Linked DNA regions of Homo sapiens: region 2 is linked to region 1. A link means that fine-mapping ties the variant in region 1 to the expression of a gene that starts in the linked region. Tissue or cell type: tibial nerve. Region 1 holds a variant in brackets; the other region holds the start of a gene. All regions are shown on one strand. Distances are from middle to middle.

The links. PIP is the estimated chance that this variant, and not a neighbour inherited with it, causes the effect.
Region 2: it holds the start of MYH14, and the variant in region 1 is fine-mapped to the expression of MYH14 in tibial nerve (GTEx, PIP 0.99).

What each region holds. Positions count from the first base shown.
Region 1 is chr19:50,305,522-50,313,341 of GRCh38, forward strand. It overlaps MYH14 (myosin heavy chain 14), which reads left to right. Exons shown (of 43, transcript NM_001145809.2): 41 at 1,528-1,636; 42 at 3,484-3,656; 43 at 4,119-5,019. The coding sequence ends at 4,269. KCNC3 (potassium voltage-gated channel subfamily C member 3) reads right to left here. Exons shown (of 5, transcript NM_004977.3): 5 at 6,416-7,820. Among named protein-coding and RNA genes, the nearest start is that of KCNC3, 20 kb to the right of the region's middle. RefSeq lists an enhancer at 7,584-7,820. The variant T/G (reference allele first, on the strand shown) is at 4,485.
Region 2 is chr19:50,200,031-50,206,524 of GRCh38, forward strand. It overlaps MYH14 (myosin heavy chain 14), which reads left to right and starts at 3,592. Exons shown (of 43, transcript NM_001145809.2): 1 at 3,592-3,641. It overlaps LOC124904746 (a long non-coding RNA gene), which reads right to left and starts at 3,946. Exons shown (of 3, transcript XR_007067298.1): 1 at 3,783-3,946. RefSeq lists a silencer at 5,314-5,413.

The DNA.
Region 1 (7,820 bases):
GTCACCCAGGGGCCCCAGGGCTTATGGGAACTGTAGCTTGAGGTCTATGGGGACCCCTGCTCCATTATACAAATGAGGAAACTGAGGTTCCGAGGGAGTAGATGAGTTGCTTAAAGTCACCCTGCACCAGGTGCAGTGGCTCATGCCTGTAATCCCCACACTTTGGGAGGCTGAGGCAGGAGGATCACTTGAACCCAGGAGTTCAAGACCAGCCTGGGCAACATGGCGAGACCCCATCTCTACAAAAATAAAAATTAAAAATTAGCCCAGCATGATGGCACACACCTGTAGTCCTAGCTACTCGGGACACTGAGGTGGGAGGATCGCTTGAGCCCAGGACATTGAGGCTGCAGTGAGCCATGATCACACCATTGCACTCCTGTCTGGGCAACAGAGCAAGGCCCTTTCTCAGAAGAATAATAAAGTCACCCTGGGAGCAAAGAATGACCAGATGATTCTTAGCTGAAGAAGTCTCAGCCGGGCGCAGTGGCTCACGCCTGTAATCCCAGCACTTTGGGAGGCCGAGGCGGGCGGATCATCTGAGGTTGGGAGTTCGAGACCAGCCTGACCAACATGGAGAAACCCTGTCTCTACTAAAAATACAAAATTAGCCAGGTGTGGTGGCACATGCCTGTAATCCCAGCTGCTCGGGAGGCTGAGGCAGGAACAATTGCTTGAACCCAGGATGCAGAGGTTGCGGTGAGCTGGAGATCGTGCCTTTGCACTCCAGCCTGGGCAACAAGAGTGAAACTCTGTCTCAAAAAAAAAGAAGTCTCTCTCCTTCATCCTTTTCCACTGCTTAGTGCCTTCCCACTCGCCCCCAGCCCTGTGCCTTCCTCTCAGCACATCTGGGGCTGTTGTATCCAGGGTGGCTGTCAAGCAATCCCGATTGCTAGAGGTCCCATCACATGGACTTCACCCCAGATGTGATGGTCCATGCAGGAGAGGACAGGTGTAAGGGCAGAAAGAGTGTTCCCTCCCGCTCTGAAGATTCAAGTCTGCTGAAATAAACTGACAATAAATAGATTAACAAAATAAAAGGCTACAAATATATTAATGTGCATGAACACAGGAGCCATGCAAAATATAAGACTTTTTATACAGGGTCAGATGGTTGAGGCTTAAGTATCCTCTTTATAGGGGAGAGAGACAAAAAGGATGTATTCAATTGTGAGAGATAGTAAATGATTTTCAGGGGAAAATGAATGGGCCCAAAGAGTAAACTGTAGTTTGTAAATGATCCTCTTTGGAAACTGAATAGGACCAAACATATACTTATTATAACTCACAACATCATAGGAAACAGGTATGTGAGGTGTCCTAGTAGAAGCCAAGGACATGGATGCCGAGGAGAAGGCAGCCTGCATGTCAGTGTTTGGCCTCAGTAAACTGTGGGAACCACTTAGGGGTTAGGAAAGAGGGAAGAAGCCAATCCAAGAACAAGGTGACAGCCACTGCATGAGTCTATGGGGACAAAATCCTAGGTTGAGCCCCTCTACTGAGACTCCTCCTCATCCCTCTCTTCAGAGAGCGCATCCTCTCTGGAAAGCTGGTGCGCAGAGCTGAGAAGCGGCTTAAAGAGGTGGTGCTCCAGGTGGAGGAGGAGCGGAGGGTGGCTGACCAGCTCCGGGACCAGGTAAGCAGCTGGCATCATTAGGGAGCAGTGGAGAGTGTGACCACTGGCTGAGAAATTGCACAGGCTGTCTCCAGAGGCAATGAGCTCCCATCACAAGAAGCAATGTGCAGGTGCTGGACTGGAACTGAATGCAGATACCATCTTGGCACTTGGCACATCAGCAGAGGGTTGGAATCAGTGAGTTTGCAATTCATAAATGCTGGCATCTAGAAAGGGCCCTGTAGGGAGCTGAGGAAGCCAGGGCAAGGGAAGAAGTTAAACCCTACCCAGAAGCTAGACCAGGACTAGCTTCTATGTACCAGGCACTGTGCTAAAGACATAACATTTACTGTGTTTAATTCTTATCAGAATGGTAGAAGGAAGGTGCTATTATTTACCCTCTTATTTATGTGAGGAAACTGAGGTACAGAAAGGTGAAGTAACTTGCTCAAAATTATTTAGCTGGTAAGAGGTGGGGTCAGTATTCAAACCTCAGCACTCTAGCCCCAGAGTGTGTGTTCTTGATTACTTACTGAGCAGTTACTGTGTCATAAGCAACTGCTTTTTAAAAAATACATATTTGCATTTCCTCACTAGTCCCATTTCACAGATGAAGAAACTGAAACTTTAAGAGGATATATTTTGCATCAGAGTCACAGAGATAGAGCCTGGATCAGATCCCAGGTCTGTCTGGACAGAGTCCCTCTGCCCTTAAAAGCTCAGCTGTGCTTTATTCGCCATTCATTCCACAAACAATTATTGAGCACCTGCTATGTGCCAGACACTGTGGTAGGCATTAGGGATATGGATGTGAACGAAACAGAGGAAGTCCCTGCCCTCATGGAGCTCACATTTTCTGCATAGGATGAGACGTAATAAACCTGTAAACAAGCAGATAATTACAGATTGTGACAAGGGCTATGAAGAAAAAAAGTGAAGAGAGAGGAAGACACAGAGGATTGGGGAATCCTCTTCAGGTTGGGAGATCAGGAAGAACTCTTTGAGAAGGTGACATTTAAATTGATACCTGAAGGGTGAAAAAGAGCCAGTCAGAGGGAACAGCAAGTATAAAGGCCTTGAAGAATAGAAATACGTTTGGTGAGTTCAGAACAAAAAGCAGATTAGTATGGTCTAGATAAACATCTGTTGTTATTTTAGTCCTGGTCTAGCTTCTTGGTAGAGTTTAACTTCTTCCCTCACTTTGGCTGCCTCAGCTCCCTACAAGGGCCCTTCCTAGATGCCAGAATTTATAAATTGCGAAGTCATTGATTCCAACCCTCTGCTGATGTGCCAAGTGCCAGGATGGTATCTGCACTCACTTCCAGTCCAGCACCTGCACGTTGCTTCTTGTGATGGGAGCTCATTGACTCCAGAAAATGTGGGATAGGAAGGCTGAACGATAAGAAATGAGGTCAGATCATGTATGTTCCCTCCCTGAAGAGAGAGGTGGTAGGGTCTGGGGAGGATCTCAGTGAAGTTGGTCTGGACAGTGGGTTTATGGGAAGAGAGAACTGGACAAGAAAAAGACCCTGTGGGGCCTGGAATGCCAGGCTGAGGGGCTGGAACCTTGTCCCGGGGGTACTGGGGAGCCATGAAAGGATTGTGAGCAGGAGGGTCTGGGTCAGCTCTGGGTATAGGAAGACCTTTCTGAGGCCATGTAGGAGACAACCTGGAGGGGAGAGACTGGAGGTCAGGGTAGAGGCTGGCATGAGGGATTTAGGAGAAAAGAACAAGGCCTAAACAGAGAGCAGAGGATGGGGCAGAGAGAGTCAGGGGGCAGTAGGGATGGGGCAGTAGTGGGCTGTTGGAGAGGGAGGGAGTGATGACAGTACCTGGAGATATAACCCAGTCCCCCTGCTTCCATCAAGCTGGAGAAGGGAAACCTTCGAGTCAAGCAGCTGAAGCGGCAGCTGGAGGAGGCCGAGGAGGAGGCATCCCGGGCTCAGGCCGGCCGCCGGAGGCTGCAGCGTGAGCTGGAAGATGTCACAGAGTCGGCCGAGTCCATGAACCGTGAAGTGACCACACTGAGGAACCGGCTTCGGTATGGTCATCCCACGTACAGGCCTGACGGGTGGGGAGCACCCTAACTCCATAAACCCCAGGGACGCGAGGCCGTGCCAGGGGCAACAACAGGGGGAAATGGGATCCACGGGGGTGTGGGGCTGTGGGAGCAGCGGCTGTGTTGCGGGAGAGCCAAATCCAGGTAACTTCTTTCTTCCCACACCCATTTCTCCCTGTCATCTCTGTGCCCTCCTTTCCCACCGTGCACCACCACCTTTCTCTCCTTTCCTCCTCTCTGTGTGTCCTTCATCTCTCTCTGCCCCCCATTGCTTCTGCCCGTCTCCCTCCATTTCTCTTGATCTCATCCCTCTCTTCCCCCTTATTTTGTTCTCTCTCTTCCTATCTCTCTCTCTCTCCCCCTCATCTCTCTCTCTCCTCCCCCTTTCTCCTCCCCTCCCCTCCCCTCATTTCATCTCTGTATCCTGGTCTCTCCTCCCCACAGACGCGGCCCCCTCACCTTCACCACCCGCACGGTGCGCCAGGTCTTCCGACTAGAGGAGGGCGTGGCATCCGACGAGGAGGCAGAGGAAGCACAGCCTGGGTCTGGGCCATCCCCGGAGCCTGAGGGGTCCCCACCAGCCCACCCCCAGTGACCCTACCCTGTCCCCAGATGCACTAACAGATGGGGCCCAGCCCCCTTCCTCCCTGGACCCCACGGGCCCCTGTCCCAGGAACCCCGCCCTCTGACTTCTTGCCCTTTGGAAATGGTGCAGCACTCTGGCATTTATCACCCCCACCTGGGTCCCCTGCAACCTCCCATCAAAGGATGACCCCTAAACACAGAGGAGCGGGGCAGGCAGGGAGGCAA[T/G]GACTGGAGCTACCTTGCTTGTTGGGGGACTGGGTACAGTTGGCAAGCTGTGTTTCCATCAGCTCCCTGTCCTCCTTTCTTCCCTCGTTATTGATCTATAGACATTAGGAAGGGAGTGAGACGGCTCCTCCACCATCCTCAGCCAGTGCAACCCATTCCCTCTGCTTCTCTCTCTCTCTCTCTCTCTCCCTCCCTCTCCTTCCCTACCCTCTCACCATCTTTCTTGGCCTCTCTGAGGGTCTCTCTGTGCATCTTTTTAGGAATCTCGCTCTCACTCTCTACGTAGCCACTCTCCTTCCCCCATTTCTGCGTCCACCCCTGAACTCCTGAGCGACAGAAGCCCCAGGCCTCCACCAGCCTTGAACCCTTGCAAAGGGGCAGGACAAGGGGACCCCTCTCACTCCTGCTGCTGCCCATGCTCTGCCCTCCCTTCTGGTTGCTCTGAGGGTTCGGAGCTTCCCTCTGGGACTAAAGGAGTGTCCTTTACCCTCCCAGCCTCCAGGCTCTGGCAGAAATAAACTCCAACCCGACTGGACCATCTCTGTGGCTGTGTGTGTTCCTGCAGGGGGTCTCTGATGGGGCAGGATGGGCACAGGCTGCTTCAGCCTGCTAGGGCAGCAGGTCAGGCAGCCTGCTGGTTAGAATGACACCTGCGTGGGTATACAGGGACATCCTGTGGATCAGGCGCTTCATAACTCCTTTCCTCCTGACTCCAGTGTATAATGGAAATATTCCCTGCATTATACAGATGAGGGAACAGTCTCAGAGCAGCAGCATCCCTCACTCCACGCCCCCAGTGAGTGCTAGAAGGGGTGTTGCACTCGGGCCAACTCTTAAGTTTTGCAAAATAAATGACAGGCCTGCTGCAGTGGCTCATACCTGTGATCCCAGTGCTTCGGGAGGCTGAGGTGGGAGGATCACTTGAGCCCAGGGGGTGGAGGCTGCAGTGAGCTATGATTGCATCACTGCACTGTAGCATGGGTGAAGAGTGAGATCCTGTCCCAAAAGCAAAACAAAACAAAAAGACAGCCGTGGTCGTTTGTGCTGCGTGCTGTGCTAAGCACACAGTTTATCTTAACCCTTACATAGCACTACAGGTAGAGATTTCATTGCACTCCAGTGCCTAGAACAGTGTCTGGCACACAGCAGGCATTCACTCAATATTTGCTGAATAACTAAGTGATGCCCCTCCCACCCTTTTAGAGTGGTGGAAACAGGCTCAGAGAGGCTGAGTGACTTGCCCAAGGACACACAGCTACTAAGAAGTTGAAACAGTTTGAACCCAGACAGTCTGGCCTCAGAGTCAGCACATATAGAGGCTGAGCCCTCAGCCCCTGACCCCACCTTGGGGACCCAGGTCTGTCTCTCTCGTGGGAACTAGGCACCCTCGTGTGGGGGCTCACGTTCGTCAGACTGAGTCCTCAGTGACTTTTCAGTTAGAGGTGTGGATCCCCATTTTTACTATCAGGGAAACTGAGGCAGGTGCTTGCCCTAAATAAGGTGCAAGCCGTGGAGCAGATGTCACGATCACCAAAGCCCATCCTCCCCTTTTTTAAAAAATTGAGAAAGGGTCTCACTCTGTCACCCAGGCTGGAGTGCGGTGGCACAATCATAGCTCCCTGCAGCCTCGACCTCCCAGGCTCAAGCGATCCTCTCGCCTCAGCCTCCAGAGTAGCTGGGACTACAGATGCCACCACACCTGGCTAATTTTATTTTATTTTTTGTAAAGACAGGGTCTCTCTTGTGTTGCCCAGCCTGGTCTTGAACTCCTGGCCTCAAGCGATCTTCCTGCGTCCTTGGCCTCCCAAAGTGCTTGGATTACTGGCCTGAGCCACTGTGCCCAGCAATAGGGCCCCACTCTAGAAGTCCCAATCCCTCTGTGCGCCCCAGCCGCAATCAGGAGACTTTCCGAACAGGCACACAGGAGGCCATTTTTAAATGAAAAGGAAACGTTTATTTTGGTGGGGAGTGAGGGTGGGTGGGAAGGGGGCATGACACTTTTTCTTTGGGGAGAGGGGGGTGACATGCGGCAGCTTCTGCATTGGGCGGTTCATGCACCCAGGGTGGGCGTGGGGGAGGCTTGGGGAAGGGGCCACGCCGACCCCTCCCTCCCTGCCCTGCGGGTGGGCTGAGAAGACCCGCCATTAGCACCAGAGTTGGACGATTTGCAGACCTCCCCTCCCCACACTGTCTCCGAACCCCGCCCCCATCCCTGAGAGCGCCCCCTCACCACTCCCCCCACCAGCGACAGGCTAGGCCCGCCCCGCCCACATTTGAGTGAGAGAAACTTATTGCTCTGTGTGTGTGTGTGTGTGTGTTGGGGAGGGTGAGCCGCGGAGCTCAGGAAGACCCCCCGCCATTCATTCCTCCCCAATCGCCCCGCCCCCTGGCCCGTGTCCGTGCGTTCCCGGAGCGCAGGAGGGGTGCGACATGCGTGTGGGGGGCGCGTCATGCAGCGCATGCGTGTAGGTGCAGGCACCCTGGCGGCCGGGGGGAAAAGGGGGAGCCGGACTTGGAAAGAGTCCCTTTAGCTCGCTCTCTCCCTCCCCGAATCCCACACTATTGACTTGGGGGATGGGGTGGGAGGGGAGGAGAATCACGTTTTGTAGAAGTTTATCATGATTGTGGTTATTTTGAAAAGCTGAACTCAAAAGCTGGGTACGTGTGGCGGACTGGCGAGCAGGGGGAGACGTTGGGAAGAGGTCAGTACCCTTTGGAAAAGACCCTCACCCCCTTTCCCCGCCTCCTTCGGCTTTCGTGAAGGTCAGGGGAAACGGGGGGGCTTGTTAAAGAAGTTGAACCCTTTGGCAATATAATCAGTCCCCACCCCGTACCCTGGTGTCTGGAGCCCCTAGCCCTTTGCCCCGCCCCCACCAAAACCCGCCCCACCCCTCACCCCTGCTTCACCAGGGTTTAGGGTCCGAGGGAAGGATGGGGGGGACTCAAAATGCCCCTTGCATAGGAATCGTTGCATCGAGAATCGTGCTCAGTGACGCCCCCCATCCACCCTCGGGTGGGGGGTTCCTGAGGCCGTGGGAGCAGAGGGAGGGAGGTGGCTAATTCCGTGGGACCCCGGCTCCAAAAGGGGGGTCCGCTAAAGAGTCTGGGACCGGTGTGGTCTCTGGGCTTGGGGGAGGTAGCGCATCCTTGAGCCAGGATAGGAGGTGGGAAATGATTTTCCACCCGCGAGCGTGACGCGGTGAGGACCGCTGGGGAAGGGGGGCTGGGATCCCAGCCGAGCTGGGTGTTGTCGGTTCCCAATCTTCTGATACTCCAGTGTTCCTCCCTTCGGGAACAGCCTCTGTGATCATCTGTGGACTACTTTAAATGGAAACA
Region 2 (6,494 bases), 110 kb before region 1:
TGCCCTCCGCAAAAGAAAGCTCATTACTATCACTCAGTGATGTCATCAATTACCTCATAGACTGAGCAGAATTGATGACATCTCCAATTATGAGGTCAATTTAGAACCTGGTGGGCATGATGATATCACAAGTTGCCAGGTAAATCTACCTGGGTAATCCCAGGCTAAATCTAGCCCTGGGTAGTGTTGATGACATCACCAGTTACCAGGCAGATTATAGTTAAAATGTGGGTGCCCAGTGCCTTCTTTCCTGTTTGAAATTCTGTTGTGTCCCAGTCCATACTCTTTCCTAGCACCGTTGGGAACAGGACTTTCATGTCTCTGGACCTCAATTTTTCTTTCTTTCTCTTTCTTTCTTTCTTTCTTCTCTCTCTTTTTTTTTTTTTTTTTTTTGAGTTTTTTGTGATAGAGTCTCAGTCTGTCACCCAGGCTGGAGTGCAATGGCACAATCTTGGCTCACTGCAAACTCCACCTCCCGAGCTCAAGCAATTCTCCTGCCTCAGCCTCCCAAGTAGCTGGGACTACAGGCGCCCACTGTCATGCCTGGCTTATTTTTGTATTTTTAGTAGAGATAGGGTTTCACCATGTTGGGTAGGCTGGTCTCAAACTCCTGGCCTCAGGTGATCCTCCCACCTCAGCCCCAAAAATTGCTGGGATTACAGGGGTGAGCCACTGTGCCTGGCGTGGACCTCAGTTTTCTATCCATCAAATGGGGATAATAAAAGCACCAGCCTCGTAGGGTTGTGGAGAGAATCCAATGAGTTAATACATAAAAGGGCAAAATGTCCAGCACACAGTCAGCACTCCATACACAGCAGCACTCATTATCTTTACTGTAGGATGTTTCCATGGAGCACGCTCCAGCCAGAGTGACAGGAGCCCTCAGCTCTGTCTTGGTTAAGACAGATGCCTGCAGGGGCCTGTTTCCTAGGAGTTGGAGCCCAGATCCGCCATTAGCAGTAGTCAGGAGACCCTGGACATGTTGCTAGCCTATAAAGTGGGGTAATGACCATGCCAGCCTCACGGGGCTGGCATGAGGATGCACTGACATAATGACAGTCATGTTTCCAGCACACAATCAGACCTCACAACTGTGAGCTGTGTTATCACTGCGAGTACTCTCAGAAAGGTCCTTTTCTCCCCAGGATGTTGTTTCCCCATCTGCAAAGAAGTGGAAGGTGGCTGTGGCAATCTCAAAGCCATGGCAATCTTGACACTATGACCACAGGGATGGTCCTGTGATTCACCTTTGCTGTTGCTGAGCAAGTGCATTGGGAGTTGGATGCTTGAATCTGTGTCTGCCCTCAGCACCCAACTCCAGCTTCTCTTGTCTCTTTTCTGCCCATCTCTTATCTCCCAACATTTCCTTTCATATTTCTTTGGCTTCTTGCTCGTACGCTAGACTTCGTATGTATATAGTTTCTCTCCTGCATGCTGTTTGTAGGACAATAAATGGCAATAGTCATGATAATCAGTATTTTCTTTTTCTTTTCTTTCTTTTTTTTTTGAGATGGAATCACTCTGCCACCCAGGCTGGAGTGCAGTGGTGCTATCTCCGCTCACTGCAACCTCCGCCTCCTGGGTTCCAGTGATTCTCCTGCCTCAGCCTCCCGAAAAGCTGGGATTACAGGCGTGGGCCACTATGCCTGGATAATTTTTGTATTTTTAGTAGAGACGGGGTTTCACCATGTTGGCCAGGCTGCTCTCGAACTCCTGACTTCAAGTGATCTGCCTGCCTCAGCTTCCCAAAGTGCTGGAATTAGAGGCGTGAGCCACCGCTCCTGGCCAGTACTTTCTTATTCAGCCTTTTCCCTGGTGCCAGGACTGTACTAAGAGCTTTGTAGGCACTAATTCACTTAATCCACTCAATACAAGCACTCATTACCATTTACTCAACAAACACTTATTAAACACCTACTGTGTGCCAGGCACTGAGGATTCGGCACTGAACAAAATAAAGATCTTTGTCCTCGTGGGACTTAAATTCTAGTGAGGAGACAGATGATAAACAGATAAATTAGCAAACACTCCCAGTGCTATGAGAAAAAGCAAAGCGGGGTTAAACGAGAGAGAGTGATGAGAGGAACTGTCTTATATAGGATGGCCAGGAAAGGCCTCTTGGAAGAGGTGATATTGGAGCAGAACGGATGATGTGGGAGAGAGGTTGTCATGCAAAACCTGGGGAAGAGCATTCCTGGTGGACCCAACAGAGAATGCAAAGGCCTTGGGGCAGCACCAGGCCTCCTGGTTTGAGAAATTGAGCCAGTGTAGCTGGAGCAGTATGAAGGGGAGGGCCTGGGGGTGAGATCAGAGAGAGCAAAAGGGCCAGCCACATCCCGCAGGACCTCATTGGCCATGGTGAGTTCTTAGACTTTTACTGAGTGAAATGGGAGCCATGGAAGGCTCTGAACAGAGGAAAGGCCCCATCTGAATAGAGTAGACTGTAGGGAGAGCAAGGGTGAAGGCAGACAGTCCATCACTCCCATTTTACGAGTGCAGAAATAAATGGAATCTCAAAAAAGTCCAGCAACTGGCCTGAGCCCACACAGCTGCTGAGCAGCCGAGCCAAGCTGGCAGGCCTCCTTGGGTTCAGTGGAGCCATTCCTTTGTGCCCTTGGCTCTTTTTATTTTCCTTTTAAATAGAGATGGGGCCTATGTTGCCCAGGCTGGTCTTGACCTCCTGGGCTCAAGTGATCCTCCCACCCTGGCCTCCCAAAGTGTTGGGATTACAGGTGTGAGCCACGGCACCCTTCCAACCTTGGGAAGTCTTTTGGCTCTCCTGAGCCTCAGTTTTCCCATCTGTAAATTGTAAATGGGGAATCATTACCACGTTTGGGCATAGCATGGCGGTTAAAAGCACAACTTCTGGTTGGATCTGAGTCCTTGCTCTGCCATCGGCCAGCTCTGTGACTTTCTGCAATTAACACCCTCTTTCTAAGCTTGGGGTTACCTCATCTAGAAGATGAAGATCTTAATAGCACCAATTTCAAGGGCTTCGTTGTAAGGATTAAATGAGATCATGCAGGTAAGGCGCTTAGCACAGCTCCCGGTCTACATCGAAGTGCTTGATAAACGATCATTGTTATTCCGATAGTATCACGGCCCACACCTCCCCGGTGGGTGAGAGCCTGGGAGGGTGCCTGGTACATGGTCTACGTTCGACAAAAGTGAATTCTGTCTCCTGTCTCTCCTGCCCGCCGGGTCCCGGGGGACCCAGGCATTCCGGCCTTCGGTCGGCCCCCCCACGCCGGCCCTTACAAAGGCCCCCATTCATGCCTTGCGCACAAAGCGGCCCATTCACCCTGGCCCCTTGGGCCTCCCGCCCCCGGCCGCCCCCCGCGCCTCGCTATTGGTGGCGCCCCGTGCCCATCAGGCCTCGGCTTCCACCCCCGACCGCGCCGCCTAGCTCCGCGCCCGGGCCGCGTTCTTTTCCCACGGCTGGCACCCTTCGACAACTTCTGATTGGCCCAGCCCGCCAGCCGCTCTTTTTGATTGGCGGCTCCCGTCCCCCAGGGGCGGGGCCGTAGCTTGCCGCAGCGGGCGCCGATTGGCCTCTGCTGCTCTCTTGGGGGCGGGGCTGTCCTGGCGGACACGCCCCTCTTTCTCCCCAGGCCGAAGCCTCGGGACGGCCCTGGAAGCCGGTGAGTGCCCGGGGCCGGCAGCCCTCCGGGGGCGGCGGAACGGGACTGAGCCAGGGGAAGCTGGAGCCTGGGGGCTGCGATCGGGGCCCGGGAGCCCGGGCAGGCGGCCGGGGACGGCGGGGAGGTGACGCGGACACTCACCTTGGGCGCGCAGCGGGACGGCGGCGAGGGAGGTGGGGGGGCGGGACGTCTACACTCCCCCAACTCCAGTTGCCGCCGTGTGCGAGGCCCGGTCGGGGTCCTCGTTGTCAGCCCCGGGCCTGTTCCGCAGAAGGGGAAACTGAGGCTGTCTTTGGAACCTCGGCCGCTTTAATACCTGAGTCATCGCCTCCAGTCCCCCGCCCCCAGCATGACATGTCTCTGTTCTCACGTGTCAGAATCGGAGGCCAGAGAGAGGGGTCGTGACTGGAAGAGGCGGAGGGGTAGGGAAGGACATATTTGAGAACCTATGATGTACTTGGACGCTTTTATTTTTTATAACTAAATAATTTCCTTTCCTTATCGTGTTGACTCGAGGTGAGTTATATTGTACCCATTATACAGAGAGGGGAAGGCTGAGACTGGGCCGAATTGGTGACTGCAGGGGGACCTGGTGGAGAAGAACACTCCAGAGACCAACTGTGTGCTGGGTCCTTTAACCTTTTCAGTCCCACAGGAGTCCCCTAAGGAAAGCGGTGGTCCCTGTGGCATAGATGGGGAAGCAGGTTGGTAGTAATCACCAACTGGGACGCAGAAATTCATGTCTTTAGGGACCTGCTACAAGTTCTTTCCAGACCCCCTCCTTTAGAATGGCAGAAAACGGTATAGGCTTGAATTCCAGACCTCCCTCTTACGCTGTGTGATCTTGAGTGCCTTACTTTGACCCTTCCTGCCTCAGTTTCCACATCAGAGAAATGGACATGCTGATCACCCCTATGTCATTGGTTGTTGAGGTTATTCTAGGCCGGGCGCAGTGGCTCAGGCCTGTAATCCCAGCACTTTGGGAGGTGGAAGCGAAAGAATCGCTTGAGCCCAGGAGTTCGAGACCAGCTTGGGCAACACAGCGAGACTTCGTCTCTACAAAAAGTAAAAGAGTTAGCCGGGCGTGGTGGCGTGACCCTGCTGTCCCAGCTACTCGGGAGGCTGAGCAGGGAGGATCGGTTGAGCCCAGGAGGTCAAGGCTGCAGTGAGCCATGATCGTGGCATTGCACTCCAAGCTGGGCAACAGAGAGAGACCCTGTCTCTCCCTCTTTTTTTTTTTTTAAATCATTTTATGATCTCAAAGAGCTGTTCTAAGAGGAGAAAATACCCGACACATAGTAGGTACTCTTATCACCATGTAGTCTTTATTTCACTCCCGAGACTGAAGCTCAGGACAGAATACCATTGTCCTCTTCTTTGGTACTCTTACTGTCTATAGATTTTGTTGTTCCCTTCCCGCAGTTGGGAAACTGAGGCTCAGGGAGATTAATGATGAAGCACTGGGCTGGGGAACTTTCTGAACGTCGTTTTATTAATTTCACTGGCCGCAATGCACAGCAGGGAAAGCTGAGGCCCAGGAAGCTCCAGCGGGGTTTGAATCCCGGGAATCCTCAGCCTTCTCCGCGGCGGGCCCTCGACCTTTGCCCTCCATAAGGGGGAGGAGCCCCTGGCGCCGCCGCCGCCGCCGCCCACCTGGCAACAGGCTCAACCCCCGCCTTCCCCCGGCCCCCGTCAGAGGCCCTGAAGCTCCAGGCCCGCCCCGTTCCCAGCCGGGCAGGTGCTGGGTGACATCAGAGCCGGGCTCCCGCCCTGTGACGCGACGGGGCCCCGCCCTGCGCTGGACCGCGGAGGTCGCTGCACCTGAAGAGAACGGGGATTCCCGCGCCCTCACCCCATCTCCCCGCTCCGGTCGGCGCCCCCAGGTAGCCCCGAGGATCTGCGAGTTGAGGGGGCGGCGACACAGGCGCTTGGGTCCAGGGGAATGGGTACGGGGCTCTCAGACTCCTGGATCTGAGAAGGGGCCTTGGGGGCCGGCTGTCCCAGGTCTGAGGAAGGACTGCGCCGCGAGCCCGAACTTCTGGGTCCTGGGGGAGGAAAGGACTGGGGCCAGGACTGCAGAGCTGGGGTCTTAGGGGAGGAGGGGGCTGCAAGCCCGGATTCTGGGGTCTGTAGGAGCAGGGGCTGGGGGCCTGAACTCCTGGGTCTGAGACAGGAGGGCATTGAGTACTGGGACTCCGGAAACCCAGCGCTAGAAGCCAGGGTCAGACGGCTGGATGCCAAGGGCCCCAACCTCTGCCCCAGGGCGGATCCCTGGCTGCTTTTCTTTTTCAAGCCCAGCAGTCTCGGCCCCTCCCAGGGCAGGTGCTTTCACCTGCCCAGGTGACAGTAATTAGCCCTGGCAGAGTGTTCCTGCTGGTTGAGGAAGGGTAGGGCAGTCAGAGAGGCTCGGCCACTTGGAGCCAAGGCCTGCAGGCCCTGCCCGCCCCATCAGGGCTGTGATCCATCTTCAGAACTCAGCATCCTCACCTCTAGCCCGGCTGCAGTGAGGTGAGGGGGCCTGCACTTCCCAATCCATAGGAGGAGGGGGCTGGGGGCTCAGACTCCTGGGTCCTGGGAGAGGAGGAGGCTGGGAGCTCGGACTCCTCAGCCTGGGGAAGGAAAGGGCTGGGGGCTTGGACTCTTGGCTCCAGGGAGGAGAGGCATAGGGCATAGGGTGATTGCAAAAACTCCGAAACCCTTCCTGGTCAAAGGCCACAGGGCTGGTGAGGAAGTGGATGGGGTGGGGTGGGGTGGGTGGGGGTGAGGGTAAAGTCCCAGGGATGGAGTTTGGGTCCGGTGTATCCAGGTCACACTGGAGATATGGGGTGAGCCTTGACGATTTGGGGGCCACGG